Linked DNA regions of Homo sapiens: region 2 is linked to region 1. A link means that fine-mapping ties the variant in region 1 to the expression of a gene that starts in the linked region. Tissue or cell type: whole blood. Region 1 holds a variant in brackets; the other region holds the start of a gene. All regions are shown on one strand. Distances are between the middles of the regions.

The links. PIP is the estimated chance that this variant, and not a neighbour inherited with it, causes the effect.
Region 2: SDSL starts here. The variant in region 1 is fine-mapped to the expression of SDSL in whole blood (TOPMed, PIP 0.97).

Annotation. Positions count from the first base shown.
Region 1 is chr12:113,391,991-113,400,090 of GRCh38, forward strand. SDS (serine dehydratase) reads right to left here. Exons shown (of 8, transcript NM_006843.3): 2 at 7,566-7,720; 3 at 7,122-7,161; 4 at 6,717-6,856; 5 at 6,525-6,616; 6 at 5,175-5,402; 7 at 1,902-2,026; 8 at 455-1,159. The coding sequence starts at 7,718. The coding sequence ends at 951. Among named protein-coding and RNA genes, the nearest start is that of SDS, 7.8 kb to the right of the region's middle. RefSeq lists an enhancer at 1,224-1,423. The variant G/A (reference allele first, on the strand shown) is at 3,312.
Region 2 is chr12:113,419,092-113,427,191 of GRCh38, forward strand. It overlaps SDSL (serine dehydratase like), which reads left to right and starts at 3,289. Exons shown (of 8, transcript NM_001304993.2): 1 at 3,289-3,386.

The sequences.
Region 1 (8,100 bases):
GCATATGCTTTTGTTGGAAGAGAGGGCTCCATGTTTGAGGAGGGTTTGCATGACATTGACTTCAAGTCCACCCACCCTTTCCCTCTCCCAGAGATGGGTGTCCAGTGTCAGCTCACACACGCCCAGGGGAGGGGGCCTCACTTCTTTGCTTCCATTGGGTCTGTGATGAAATAATTCTGACTTAGTAGGAAGGACTTCATATCAGAATGAAGTTGGCCTCCCCAGCTGCTTCTGCCTTCAGCGGAGGCAGCCTTTGTCCCACCCCAAGTCCCTCTTGTTTAGCCACCTGCTTCCTGTGGTACAGGGATGCCCCTGTCCTGGCATGCAAGACTAGCTGGAGTCAGGCTCCTGGCCTCACTCTGGGGCCCCAGTTGAGAGCTGGGGCTGAGAGCAGACTTGGGGTGGAAGGAAAGCAGGAAAGGAGACAGCTGATGATGGGAAAATGCACAGGATCTTTGTTTCATAAATATATTTTATTTTTCAATGAAAAAGTTTGCACATTAGAAAAATTAGTAAGGGTCAGGGGTGGGCTTCCTGGGAGGATGGCTGAGATGGTTCCTCAACCCTGGTTGGTGGCCCTGTTGACCTTCACTGGGAACAAGTTCAGGGGCGAGGTCACAGCTTTGAGGAATTCCTCACTGCTGTGATTCAGGTCTCTCCTGTCCACCCTGCTCTGGGTACCTGGTGTGTTACTTGTGGGCACTTGTCACGCCAGCAAGTTGGCTAAGGATGGGCACAGAGCAGTCACACAGATACCAAAAAGGTCCAATTCATAGCCTCGCTGGCTGCCGACCTTTGGCCTCTGCATAGTGGGCTCCTGATAACAAGAAGTTAACCTGCACCCAGGCCACAGGTGCTCAGCCAAACATACGACGAGGCGCTGGATAAAACTCCAGCCCCTCCAGGGGTCTCTTGGGCTAGGAGAGCACAGATCGGTAAGGGGTCCGTCCTCACTTGGGCAACCTATTTGTCATGCCCAGCTGTTCCTTGAGCGCCCGCAGCTGGGCCAGGCTGATGTTGCTGCCCCCGCAGACGATGACCACGAGGGATGGCAGCGGGGTTCGGAGATTCCCCTCCAGTTGGAGCTTCTGGATCACGTGGCTATAGACAGCGGCCAGGGCTGCCCCGCAGGCGGGCTCCACCAGGATCTTCTCATCATCTGCCAGAGAAGGGGCGTGACAGGGGCGTGGCCTGAGTTTCCCAGGGTGCACAGGAGCTGACAGGCCATTGGCAGGACCTGGGAATACTGAGCCAATCAGCTCTCAGCCCTGGCTGCAGCCGCAGGTCCTGAACCAAACGTCCCGTCATCGGCCTGAATTGGCCCTTCCAAGCCTGAGCCAGGGCCTGGGTTTCATCATGAGTGCTAACACTGATAGAATGAGTGTGGTTGCGTGAGCACTGTGTTGAGAAGGATTCTGAGGCATCATCTGAGCAAGAGTTCCATGGTTGATTAGCCAAGTGTGCAGCAGGTACAGAAGCATAAATGGTACTATTTTTTTCTCTCTTTTTTGCCATCCCTGCCCTAGACGGAACCCAGAAAGAGTCCAGCCTAGTTACAGACTCACCTCTGAATGAATCAAACTCTGAGCCCCATGTTTTCCTTTTTTTACCCTGGCTGCCAGGAAACTCAGAAGCAACATTTTAAATATTCACTTATTGTTTTCTGCTGCTATGGTTATCAGGCTTACTTTTCTATTTACTTTTCCATTATGTGTGGCTTTTGCTTTTCTATTTCTACACGGCATTGTATTATCTTCTATTAATGGAAAATTCTAGGCAGAGGTGGAAGACAGAACTGTGAAGGAAACTTGGGGTGAGTGGGATCCCCAGTGGCATACCAAGTGGACAGCCACTTAGCGCCTGAGTCAGCAGGTCAGGTCATGGGAGGACCTGGCACATACCCACGAACTTCTCAATGGCGGCCACAGCCTCCTGGTCCGAGATAACTTCAGAGAAAATGGGGTGTTCCTGAAACAGCTTCAGGGCCTGAGCCCCCACAGTCTTCACGCCCAGGGCCTTGGCAACACTGAGAGAAGTGGGAACCCAGAAGAGGATGGGAGTGGGGGAAACAGGAGAGAGATGGGGGCAGGGAGGGAGAGAAGGAGATGGATGTGAGACAGAGAAGGCAATGCATCTGGGGGCAGGGGGACAGGTATCACCTCTGCAGCTGTAAAACCCTGAAAAGCCTCAGGGATCCCCAAACCAAGTGGGGTCTTCTAATAAGGTGCAGAGTGTTTGAATTGACATCATATAGTATATTCTTTAGTATCATTTTTTTAATTTTTTTGAGACTGAGTGTCACTATGTTGCCCAGGCGGGTTTTTGTTTTGTTTGTTTTTTTGTTGTTTTTTTGTTTTTTTTTTTTTTTAGACGGAGTCTTGCTCTGTTGCCCAGGCTGGAGTGCAGTGGTGCGATCTCAGCTCACTGCAATCTCTGCCTCCCGGGTTCAAGCAATTCTCCAGCCTCAGCCTACCGAGTAGCTGGGACTACAGGTGCCCACCACCACACCCGGCTAATTTTTGTATTTTTAGTAGAGATGGGGTTTCACTATGTTGACCAGGCTGGCCTCGAATTCCTGACCTTAGGTGATCCACCCCCCTCGGCCTTCCAAAGTGCTGGGATTACAGGCATGAGCCACCATGCCCGACCCCAGGCTGGTCTTGAACTCCTGGGCTCAAGTGATCCTCCTGCCTCGGCACAGCGTCATATTCTGATCAACACTAAGTCAGGAGCAAATGCCTAAGAGGACCCTTGTTGTTCCCTGCTAGGACTCCCTGCTTTTGCTCCGGGTTACAACCGCTACCTGGTTAACCCTCATGAAGCTTAGCACCACTCTGCCTGCCCACATCCTGCTGTGTCCTTCAAGGCTCAGGATTAAGGCCACCTCCTCCAAGGAGTCCTCCTGGGAGAGTACTGAGTCCCACGGCCCTATGTGGAATTCTCAAATAGTCCTCCCTGCTAGTAACAAGCGCCCTGAGTACTTCTTGAGAAAGTGTTAGGTGCCAAGCACTTCACAAGCATTATTGAATTCACACAAGAATTCTGCTGTTGTTAATTGGTTTGATTTTGGAAAGGGGAAACTGAGGCAGAGAGTGTACAGTCACTTGCCCAAGGTCACACACCTAGGGAGTGCTGGAGCTGGGGCTGCAAGCAGGATCTGTATAACTTCAAGACCTGCACTGGTAACCAATGTGTTGACGCTGTCCCCAGCTTCCTGGGGTGACCACTAGCTCTATTCCCAGCTCAGCTGCCCCCTCTCCCTTCCCCAGGAGCATCTTGAGGGCCTGAGCCACCTCAGCCCTCAGCAGCAC[G/A]TGGTTTACAGTAGGCGCTCAGCCATGACGTCTTCAGTCCCTACAGTGTGGGACACAGCAGCTCCAGATGCCAGGCTCAGGAATCTGGAAGAAGTTCTTACCTGGCTGGGCTCAGTCTTCCCTATCTGTAGGGGAGACTATTGTCTGCCCCGGTGTCTTTTCTAGCTGCACTTATGGGCACCTGGTGTAAAGACATTTCCCAGCCTCCCTTGCAGCTGGATGTGGCCATGTGACTAAGTTCAGGCCAACGAAAGGTAAGTGGAAGTGTTGTGTCTGTCTTTGAAGGTTGGAGCATAGCCTTCTGCCCTTGCTTCCCCATCCCTGCCAAATGGAATGTGGGTGTGATAGCTGGCACTCAGGCAACCATTTTGGACTGAAACACTACATGCTAAGGATAATGGGGAAACAAACTCAAGGGACCTGGCGCCCTGACTTTTCATGGTAAAGTTCAATCTCATTTAAGTCACTGTTATTTGGGCCTTCTGTGTAATGGGGTCAAAACCTAATCCTAATTAAATACTATCTACCAGCCGGGTGCGGTGGCTCACGCCTGTAATCCCAGCACTTTGGGAGGCTGAGGTGGGCAGATCACCTGAGGTGAGGAGTTCGAGACTAGCCTGGCTAACACGGTAAAACCCCATTTCTACTAAAAATACAAAATTAGCCAAGTGTTGGGGCAGACGCCTACTCCTGAGGCTGAGGCAGGAGAATCGCTTGAACTTGGGAGGCAGAGGTTGCGGTGAGCTGAGATTGTACCATTGCACTCCAGCTTGGGCAACAAGAGCGAAACTCTGTCTCAAAAAACAAAGACAAAAACAAACAAACTATCAAAGGTTTGGGGCTTGGATATGAACTCCTTAGGAGCAAGACTTGTGTTTATGCACCACTCTCTCCCCAGATCAGCCAGTGTCTTACACACAATAGGGGCTCAGTAAATGGTTGGCAAAGTAATGAGGTATGTAAAACCTTGCCACAGAGGACTCAGTAAATGATTCCTATGAGACCTTCCTTCCTTCCTTCCTTCCTCCCTCCCTCCCTTTTTCCTTTCCTTTCCTTTCCTTTCTTTCTCTTTCTCTCTTTTTCTTTCTTTCTTCCTTTCTTTCTCTTTTTTCTTTCTTTCTCTCTTTCTTTCTCTTTCTTTTTCTTTCTCTCTTTCTCTTTCTCCTTTTTTCTTTCTTTCTCTCTCTTTCTTTCCTCTTCCTTTCTCCTTCCTTCCTTCTTTCCCTCCCTCCCTCCCTCTCTCCCTTCCTTCCTTCCTTCCTTCCTTCCTTCCTTCCTTCCTTCCTTCCTTCCTTCCTTCCCTCCCTTCCTCCCTCCCTCCCTCTCTCCCTTCCTTCCTTTTTCTTTGTTTCTAGACAGGGTCTTGCTCTGTCACCCAGGCTGGAGTGCACTGGCATGATCATGGCTCACTACAGCCTCAGTCTCCTGGGCTTAAGCAATCCTTCCCACCTTAGCCTGGGACTATGCGTGTGTGCTACCACGCCCAGTTAATTTAAAAAAAAAACAAAAAACTTTTTTTAGAGGTGGGAATCTCTCTATGTTGCTCAGGCTGGTCTTGAACTCCTGGCCTCAAGTGATCTTCCTGCCTCAGCCACCCAAAGTGCTGGGATTACAGGCACAAGTCACTGTGCCCAGCCTCATATGAGGCTTTTCACGTGAGGAAGTGTGACATGTTGGAGTCACACAGACTTGGGTTTGAGTCCAAGCTGTACCACTCACTGGACGTGGCCCTGGGCAAGCGATCAAAGCCTCCATTGTCTCATCTGTGAAACAGGCTGACATCAGGATCTATCTCAAAGCCAGCCCTAAGGGGGACTCCCCAGTGCTTGCTGGACACCCGAGGGAGGCACCCCAGCTGCTCACCTGGTGATCTTGGGCAGGGAGACAAGTTTGCCTGCGGTGGTGGCAGCGTGGAAGCTGTGGGCACCAAAAGTCTCCATGGCGATGACAGGCACGTCCCCCCAGCCCACCTCCTGCAGCCCCTGGACCACTCCACACAGCAGGCCCCCGCCGCCCACTGACAGCGCGATGGCCCCCGGCTTTTCCCACAGTGTCTCCTTCAGCTCTTTCACGATGGAAGCGTGGCCTTCCCTGGAGGGTGGGGAGAGGGGGTGGCAGGTCAGGGCTAGGCTTCCTGGAGACACCAGCTCAGGTTTGCACCGGCCTTATCCCAGCTGATGGGGCCTGGAGCTAGTTCCCTCCCCACCCCCAACCTTGGCTTCTAGCTGCCAGCATCTGTGTCTCTGCCTGAGGACCTTCTCTGGCCACCTGAGCTACCTGCAAACAGAGTCAGGAGATGGCAGCCCCTTAAGGCAGCCCTCAACCAATGGCTACGAGTCGGTGTACAAACTCCCCTGCTCCTTCTCCCAGGGGGCGGGAAACTGCTGTGCGCCTTCTGCACTGGCTCCCAGGGTCCCCGAGGGATTAAGCTCTAGCCACCCACAGCGGCCACCTGCCTTTGAAAGCCCCCTTCCTGACATTTTGGACTGGATGATAGAAAAAGAAAAAAGAAACAGCAAAGCCCCCTTCCTTCCCTGGCTTACTTCCCCACTCCCCCACTGAATCACCTCCCAAATAAACTCCTTTCCCTGAAACCTTTGTCCCCAAGTCTGCTTCCAGGAGGACTCAACTGCAGACACTTGGGCATCTGTGTGCTTGCATGTTCAGCCTTGGGTGTGTTGCATGTGCAGCCGTGGATAATGGGCATTTGGTGACATGTGTGCACTTGCTGCTGCACCTGGGTGTAACGTGTGTTTCTTCTTTTTTTTTTTTTTTGTTTTTTTTTTTGAGATGGAGTCTCACTCTCTTGCCCAGGCTGGAGTGCAGTGGCGTGATCATGGCTCACTGCAACTTCCACCTCCTGGGTTCAAGCGATTCTCCTGCCTTAGTCTCCCTAGGAGCTGGGATTACAGGCGTGTGTCACCAAGTACAGGTAATTTTTGTATTTTTAGTAGAGATGGGGTTTCCCCATGTTGGCCAGACTGGTCTCAAACACCTGACCTCAAGTGATCCTCCCACCTTGGCCTCCCAAAGTGCTGGGATTACAGGCGTGAGCCACTGTGCCCCGCCTAAGTGTGCTTCTACATGGTGGTGTGCGCACACATGTGCAGCTGCTGTGCATGAGGACGTGATGATGTGCATCATAGCAATGCCTGCCCAGTGATATAGGGCAGTGGCTGCCACCCCCACCAAGTGACCTTGAACTCCACATACCAGATGAGGGGGTCATCAAAGGGGGGAATGTAGACCCAACCCGGGTTGTTCTTCGCTAGGGCCTTGGCCAGCTCGAAGGCTTCATCCAATAACTGCAAAGCCACAGGGGAGATAGGAGGGGGTGAGGCACAGGGGGCACCCTGTCCAGCCACCAGGCGCCCTCTCTCTTCCTTGCCCTGGGTCGGCACTCACCTCACCCACCACCTTGACTGTGGCACCTTCATTCTTGAGGCGCTCAATGGTGAGAGCAGGTGTGGTGCTGGGCACCACGATGGTGGCGGGGACGCCGAGTTGCCTGGCCGCATATGCAGCCGCCATGCCTGCGTTGCCCGCTGCCAGGGTCGGGGGTGGAGAGCGTGTCAGTGCGGGAGCATCTGGGAGCCCAGGCAGGACTGCGTACCCTCTACTGGGGGCTCTGGAGTTCCCCCCTCACCTCCCCACCCTGGGCGACTGCTGGCCTCCCCCTGGAATTCCAAATTGGTGGCTGCTGCCATTGTTTTCAGTGGCACATTGCTGGGGAAACCAGGGCTCAGAGAAGCAGAGTGTCTGATCCCAGGACACACAGCAGAGGACAGGATGGGGAAGCAGATCACTTACCCGAGGAGCAGACAAAATGTGCACAGCCTTGCTTGGCCCACTGTGGAGACAACAGGAGAGGCACTCAGGCCCACCTCCCAGTCATTGCCTGTGCTCTTCCTCCCCACCTGGAATACCTGCCAGGATTCCAGTGGACACGGACGTTTCCTTCACTCAGAATTTGTTCTACCCTTGTCTGAGACTGCACCTCCCATCTCCAAAGAGACTGGCTCAGGAAAGGGTGGAGGAAAATAGGCGACTGATGGCTCTGGGATCAGTCCCAAGGAACCCTCCTGGAAGGGCACCCCTCAAACAGAGGAAGCCCTAATGGTGGACGCTCAGTCCTTGCGGGGAGTCAGTAGGCTTATCCTACAACGCCTTTAATTTCACACAGCACTGGCCCTGCCCTGTTGAGGAAGGAGGACCTGCCACCCCTGCCCAGATAATGCTGACCCGGTCCCGTACCCTCTTGCAGAAGTGCCCAATGCCCCGGATCTTGAAGGAGCCGGAGGGCTGGGCACTGTCCATCTTGAGGTAGACGCTGGTGCCGGCCATTTTGGACAGGGCCATGCTGTCACGGATGGGGGTCTTCACGTGCAGGGGTTCTCCAGACATCATTCCTGGGAGAAAGGAAGGAAACCCAGAGGGTTAGGAGAGCTAGCCCCGGTGCCAGCACTGCCAGAGTGATCCCTTCCTTCGCTTCCCAGCAAGCCAAGCAAGGCCTCAGACGAGAGAGCATCCTGGAGACCTGGGCTCTAATCGCAAGTGGGCCACCTACTCACCATGTGACATCAGACAGGTAATCACGCCTTGGCCTCAGCTCTATCAGGGATCACCCTCCACTCCTGACCTCTCACACATTTGCTGGGAGGCTGAAGAGAGAACACTCAAACCTTGGAGCTTTCAAAATGCATGAGGTGAGGCCGGGCACAGTGGCTTATGCATGTAATACCAGCACTTTGGGAGGCCAAGGCTGGTGGATCACAAGGTCAGAAGTTCG
Region 2 (8,100 bases), 27 kb after region 1:
TACAAAAATCAGCCAGGCGTGGTGGTGCAAGCCTGTAATCCCAGCTACTTAGGAGGCTGAGGCAGGAGAATCCCTTGAACCCGTGAGGCAGAGTTTGCAGTGAGCCAAGATCGCGCCATTGCACTCCAGCCTGGGCGACAGAGTGAATGGTGAGACTCTGTCTCAAAAAACAAAACAAAATAAAGCAAAAGCAACAGCAGCGAACACAGAGCACTAACTACTGTCCTAATATTTTCCTGCATTAATGCATTTGATCCTCACATCCACTGTACTAGGGAAGTAGTGTTTTATCCCCATCTTACATTTGAGGGAACAAGGCACAGAGAGGTTAAGTGACTTACAAAAGGTCACAGGGTCACACAGTGAGAAAGTGGCAGAACAAGTATTTGTATCAGAGCCTGGCTGCAGGTCTGTGTTTTAACTACTAGGCATGCTGCTTGTTCATGCCAGAAACTACTACTACTATTATTGCTACTAATAATTTATATACAAATATATATATTATATACAAATATATATATATTTATATACAAATATATATAATATACAAATATATATTTATATACATATACATATTTATATACAAATATATATATTTATATACATATATATTTGTATACAAACATGTATATTTGTATACAAATATATATATTATATACAAGTATATATATTTATATAAATATATATTATATACAAATATATATATTTATAAACATATATATACACACACACATATATATATTTATATATGTTTTTTAAGACGGAATTTCGCTCTTGTTGCCCAGGCTGGAGTGCAATAGCACGACCTCGGCTCACTGCAAACTCCACTTCCCCGGTTCAAGTGATTCTCCTGTCTCAGCCTCCCGAGTAGCTGAGATTACAGGCGCCCACCACCATGTCCAGCTAGCTTTTTGTATTTTTAGTAGTGATGGGGTTTCACTACATTGGCCACGCTCAAACTCCTGACCTCAGGTGATCCAGCTGCCTCGGCATCCCAAAGTGCTGGGATTACAGGCATGAGCCACCATGCCTGGCCAATTAATATATTTTTTAAAGAGGCTCCATTTTTAAACTTTAATACCTACCTTAGCTTCTTCCTAAGCCATCATATCCATGAAACTATGGGTCTGATATTTTATATGTACATACACATACATATGTATACACATATATATATACCTACATACATACACACATCTTTCCTAATGCACACAGAAATAGATTGCCAACTATTAAAAAACCTTTGGGGGCTGGGCGCAGTGGCTGTTGCCTGTAATCCGAGCATTTTGGGAGGCTAAGGTAGGAGGATTGCTTGAGGTCAGGAGTTCAAGATCAGCCTGGGCAGCACAGTGAGACCTCGTTTGTAAAACAAACAAACAAACAAACAAACAAACAAATAAACAGTGTGGGTTACGCTGGACAGCATGCACGTGTTGGTGTACAGTAGACATGCACTAAATGCAGCTAGTCTGCTTCTTGTCAAAGTCTGAGCTGTGTGCTGAGTCTCTGCCTACTTCAAGAAGCCCTCCCTGATCTTGCCCCATCCCCAGCTACCCTATGGGGACTTTCTGCCCTCTGTCATCTTAGGAAGTGTTATTGTTGCTACCGAATTGGGTGTCTTCCTCTCCCCTCCATGCTGGGGGCCACTTCAAGGCACAAACTGGATTTTATCACCTCTGTGTCCCCAGTACCCAGTCCAGGACAAGGCACCCAACAAGGATGGATGTGTGTCTAAAGCGAGGATGGGTAGAAACTTGCCAGAGTCCACATTAAGGATCACGGCCAAGCAGCTCCATCTAACCCCAAGTGGCTGGGAGTTAATCATCAAACCTGGGGAGATCAGAAACAGCCCAAGAAGGACACACAACATCTGTGATGCCAGGTCTTCCTGTTCCCACTTTCCACATAGGGAAACTGAGGCCCAGAGATGGGCACGAGCTGCTCAGGTTCACCCAGTGAGATGGTGCAGAGACAAGACATGAATTTGACCATGTCATTCCCCCCACCTAAAGCCTTCTGTGGCTCCCTAGTGCCCCTGGGTAAGGTCCAAACTCTGGATTGGTACAGGCATCCCTGTGGACTCTGATCTCTGCCCACATCTCCAGCCTCAACCCCACTTGCTTCCCCACCCCTGCCTTCTCCCTCCCAGCCCCACTGGATACTACCCTGACCCTGGAATATATCATGTTTTTCATTTCCAGACCTTTGCACTCCCTGTGCCTGACTCCTGGCTCCACTCAGACTTCCCCTCCTCCAGGAAGCCTCCCCAGCCCCCCAGGGCCAGGCGGGGTGCCTGCTCTGGGTTCCACAGCCCTGCCCCACCCTGCCAGCTGCTAACATCTGATAGCACTAATAAGTGCTCTCTAATGGCCCTCTCTAAGGGCTTTGTGAAGGCAGAGGACATGCTATTTTGTTTGAGGCCAAAGTTCCAGGGATTGGCACATAGTAGGTGTCCAATAAACATTTAATGAATGAATGAATGGTCAGTCATTCATCTGAGTAGCAAATAATTGCTTGGGTTCTCATGCTGCGTGTAAAATATCCGAGACGGAGAGGTGCTTCAGACAAAAATATACCTTTCCCATGTCACAAATAATAATTATAATAATTGTTTCCTTGGCCAGGTGCAGTGGCTCACGCCTGTAATCCCAGCACTTTGGGAGGCAGAGGCAAGCAGATCACCTGAGGACAGGAGTTCGAGACTGGCCTGGCCAACATGGTCAAACCCTGTCCCTACTAAAAATACAAAAATTAGCTGGCGTGGTGGTGGGTGCCTGTAAACCTGGCTACTTGGGAGGCTGAAGTGGGAGAATCGCTTGAATCCAGGAGGCGGAGGTAACAGTGAGCCGAGATCGCACCATTGCACTCCAGCCTGGGGGACAAGAATGAAACTGTGTCTCAAAAAAAAAAAGTTCCCTTGTCCTTGTTTTCCCATCCCAGACCTAAGCTGACCCCAACAGTGGTTCAGCATCCGGGACAATCACTAGACCTAAAATGAGAAGACATGGAGATGCCTGCATCCCGGAAGAGATGGCCCAGGGCCAGGGGTAAAGGCTGTCTCTGCCCCTTGCTGTCTGGGAAGCTTTGGCCAAATAAGTTCCCTTTTCTGAGTTTCAGTTTGCTCATCTGTCAAATGAGACAGGGTGGTGCATGAGTCATAGGCAGTGCCCGGGAAAGCGGTGAGGGTTGCTCTCATCCCCTCTCCTCCTCCGTCTTCACCCGGAGGCTTAGGGTCTGGAGCTTTCTCTTTAACAAAGGAGGAGGGACCAAGGTTGCCGGAAGCTGCCTGAAGCTGGACAGAGCCGGTTCCTGGAAAGAGCTGGTTCCCTGGCAGGCTGGAGGGCAGGAGCTGGGGCCACGCTGGTCTGGGATAGTTGGGCAGGGAGGTAAGGGGTCTGGGGCCAGCTGGGGCCCCTGGGGCTCAGTGTGTGTGTGAATGAGAGGCTGATGAGAGGCTGCAGGAGTTTGGGAGGCTTTGGGCAAAGTCCAAGCTGAGCAGGTGGGAGTGAGAGGGCCTGAGCGTGTTCTAGGCCCTCCTGGGAATGTCGATTGAATTCAGGGTGCCCTGCAGAAGAAAGTGTTGTGCTGGGGACCCTGAAGGGCGAGAGTGGGTTCTGCCTGCCAGAGGGGCAGGGTTGGGCATTCTGCCAGCCAAGGGGCCAGCCCGAGGTGTCCCAGCCCTGGCACCAGGGATTTGGCTGTGGAGTGCCACCAAGGTGGCCTCTGGGGAAAGGCTTTGGGGACAAGTGAGGTGGACAGCACTGGTGGTCCTTACCTCAACTCATAGATGTGACAGGTAAGGCCCAGTGACAAAAGTGACTTGGCCAAGGTTGGCATGACTGGGACCTGAGCCTGAGCCCCCTGCTTTCCCCTGGGTTATTCCACAGCAGGGAGACCCAGGTCCCCCATTTCAGCCCTGGTGGCTGCCATACGGGACAAGAGGTGTGTGTCCCTGGGCCAAGACAGCTCAGTCCCAGACCTCAGGTGCCTGATGGGGTCTGGGGTTGATAAGGCTGTTGGCAACTTGGGGCTTTTTCATTTAACTGATGCCTGCTGTCCTCTTGTGAGTCAGTATAACCAAGAGGGCTGGGGAAGCCTGGAAACTGAGCCAGGAGCATTTGGTTCCAAAGGACAATTGGCAATAAATATTAAATGCATGCAGCTTTCATAATAGTAACGATAACACTAGTATATTAGAGAAAGTATAGCATCGCGGTTAATAGCACAGATGCCAAAGACACTGCCTGGTGTGAATTCTGGCTATGCTGTTTCTAACTGTGTGAACTTGGATAAGTTACTTAATCTCTCTGGACCTCAGGTTCACTGTTTATAAAATGGAGTCAATGGTGAGTTAATGACTCATCTGTTGTGAGCCAACAGGTGGCTCACACCTGTTATCCTAGTGTTTTGAGAGGCAGAGACAAGAGATTTACCTGAGGCCAGGAGTTCAAGACCAGCCTGGACAACTCAGCAAAACTGCATCTCTATAAAAATTAAAATATCAGCCGGATACAGTGGTGCATGTCTACAGTTCCAGCTACTCAGGAAGCTGAGGTGGGAGGATTGCTTGAGCCCGGGACTTCAAGGTTACAGTGAGCCATGATCGTGCCACTGCACTCCAGCCCAGGCAACAGAGTGAGACCTTGTCTCTAAAACAAACACCAAAAAAACAAGAAAGCGGAAGGATTATGGAGTAGGGGGAGTTCATCCTGACAATCCCAGGATCCCCAGGGGAAAAATCTGGGGATTTCACCAAAAAGGAAGAGAGACCCAATTCCAAGTGGACAGACACCCAACATGGGTGCCCTTACCATGCAGGCTCATTGAATCCTCACAATAGTCCTGCCATGTACACGCTCTTCTTGCAGTTTGTTGTGTGGTTGGTTGGTTCTCATTTTTCGGGTCTAATTTTTAATTTTTTATTATTTTTTTTGAGACAGAGTTTCCCTCTTACTCTCTAGGCTGGAGTGCAATGGCGCGATCTCGGCTCACTGCAACCTCGCCTCACCGCAACCTCGCCTCTCAGGTTCAAGCAATTCTCCTGCCTCAGCCTCCCGAGTAGCTGGGATTACAGGCATGCGCCACCATGCCCGGCTAATTTTGTATTTTTAGTAGAGACGGGGTTTCTCCATGTTGGCCAGACTGGTCTTGAACTCTTGACCTCAGGTGATCCGCCTGCCTCTGCCTCACAAAGTGCTGGGATTACAGGCATGAGCCACCGCGCCCTGTCTCAGTTCTTAGTTTTAATGGTCACTTCCTCTAAGAGGTCTTTCCTGACCTCCATACCCAAAGTAGGTCCCCTTGTTCTTCTCTTTAGGACTCCCTATATGCGTGTTTCCCTCTTAGAAGTTTTCAACATTTCTGATTATTTTGTTTGTCTATGCAGTTATTTGTTAAGTGCCCATCTCATCAGGCTATAATTCAGCTCCAAGGTTGATGTCTATCTTGTCCACAGTGGTATCCCCTGTTGCTAGGTCAGGGCCTGCATCTTGTAGGTGCCCTGTAAACATGCTAAAGTAAGGGTAAGCAGGTCACCATGCTCAAAGCATGACACAAGGTATCAGTGAGATAACGTCTCCAGAGGACTCAGCTGATGACTGGCACATAATAGGGACTCAACAAATGACAGATGTTATTCTCTCTCTCTCTCTTTTTTTTTTTTTAAAGACAGTCTCACTCTGTTGCCCAGGCTGGAGAACAGTGGTGAGATCTTGGCTCACTGCAATCTCCACCTCCCAGGTTCAAGCAATTCTCCCACCTCAGCCTCCCAAGTAGCTGGGACTACAGGTGTGCACCACCACACCCGGCTAATTTTTGTATTTTTAGTAGAGACGGGGTTTCACCATGTTGGCCACGCTGGTCTTGAACTCCTGACCTCAAGGGATCCACCCGCCTCAGCCTCCCAAAGTGCTGGGATTATAGGCATGAGCCACTGCACCTGGCCAATGTTATTCTTATTAACTTACACCACAACCTGTGAGTTGGGGACTGTTTTTATCCCCATTTTAGAGAAGGGGAAACAGGCACAGAGAGGTTGTGACACTTGTTTGGGTCACACAGCCAGGAAGTCGGAGCTGGTTTCTAACTTTTGCTTCTGGTCGACCCCAAAGCCTGTGCTCTTGGGGTCCAGGGTTGAGCTGAGGCCTAGGCTGGGGTATGCGGCATTTGGGGATCAGTGATGACCCATGGGCTTCTTTCCCCTGATGCCCGAAGCTGAGAGGTGCCCTGGGTGGGACTGGGAAGAGGTGGCTCAGGCTGTGCCCTGCCCGAGGGGGCCCTGAGGATTCTCAAGGCTATTCTGACAAGGGCGTGGGGTCAAACTCAGGGCCAAGAGACCCTGATCTCTCTGATCTTGGAACCCCAGCCATGACTTAAGGGTGGACAAGAAGGTTAGGTTTGTGAGTGGGCAGGGGAAGTTGCAGCGCCCCCCCTAGCGGCCAATAATGGAATGGTGGGGACCGGCCCAGTGCTTTTCTGCCTGGGACAAGAGGAGCTGGCTGTATTTTTTCCTTTTTTTTTCTCTACTATTTTTCCTCCCTCTCATTTCCTCCATCTCTTCTTTTCGTCCTTACCCACTGGTCCATTCACACACAGCTCCTCGGCTTCAAACCTCTCAAAGGGCTGAGCGCGGTGGCTCACGGATGTAGTCCCAGCACTTCGGGAGGCCGAGGTGGGCAGATCACTTGAGCTCAGGAGTTTGAGACCAGCCAACATGGTGAAACCCCGTCTCTACAAAAAATACAAAAAATTAATCAGGCGTGGTGACGTGTGCCTGTGGTCCCAGTTACTCGGGAGGCTGAGGCAGGAGAATCGCTTGAACCCGGGAGGCAGAGGGTGCAGTGAGCAGAGATTGCACCACTGCACTCCAGCCTGGGCAAGAGCGAGACTCCCTTTCAAAACACCACGACCACCACCAACACCACCACCACCTCCACCACCACCTCCCAATGGCTTTCCATTGCAGGTAGAATTTGAATAACAACCAAACTCCTCTCCGTGGGCGGGAACCCCCTGCTGGCACCCTTGTCCACATCTCCGCCCTCACCCCCTACCCTCACCTCCTGCCCCAAACCCCTTCTGTCTGCATCCGCGGCACCCCAAAGTGCATTTCTCCCTCGAGGTGGTCCTGGCTGCTGTTCTCTGTAGGAACTTTTCCTCTTGGCTCTCTTCCTGTCATCCATTTCAAAGTTCCCCTTTCAAGAACGTACAGATGGAGGCAGAGTTAAAAGACCCCTCAGCCAATCAAAATGCACGGATCTGATTTGCATCCTGATTCAAACCGTGAAAAACCCCAAACCACAACCAACCACAGAATCAGCCACTGATCATATTTAATGGGATGATTTGAAATGTGAACAATTAACAGATATTTGATGATATGAAAAAATTATATTTTTAGATGTGATCATAGTATTGTGATTACATTTTTAAAAAAATTAGCCTCAGTGAGGTATAATTTACATAAAATAAAATTAGCCCACTTTAAGTATAGAATTCAATGTGTTTGAACAAATGTATGTACAGTCATGAAACCATATGGTTACATATAAAAAAGGAGTTCTTAGGCCAGATGCAGTGACTCGCGCCTGTAATCCCAGCAGTTTGGGAGGCTGGGGCAGGAGGATCCCTTGAGCCTAGGAGTTTGAGACCAGCCTGGGCAACATAGTGAGACCCTATCTCTACAAAAAAGTACAAAAATTAGCCAGACGTGGTGATGTGTGCCTGTAGTCCCAGCTACTCAGGAGGCTGAGGTGGGAGGACTGCTTGAGCCTGAGAGGTCGAGGCTGCAGAGAGCTGTGATTACAGTACTGCACTCCAGCCTGGGTGACAGAGTGAGACTCTGTCTCAAAAACACAAGTTCTTTACCTCCAGAGAGACATGCTGAAATATTTACAGGTGAAATAATATAAAAGAATAATAGTAATTAAGGGGTAAATAATGACACAGGAAGGGGGAGTGGGCACCGATAGGGGAGCGAGTTAGACCATGAGTTGATTGCTGAAGCTGAAGGGTTTTTGTTTGTTTGTTTGTTTTTGAGACGGAGTCTCGATCTGTCACCCAGGCTGGAGTGCAGTGGCACAACCTTGGCTCACTGCAACC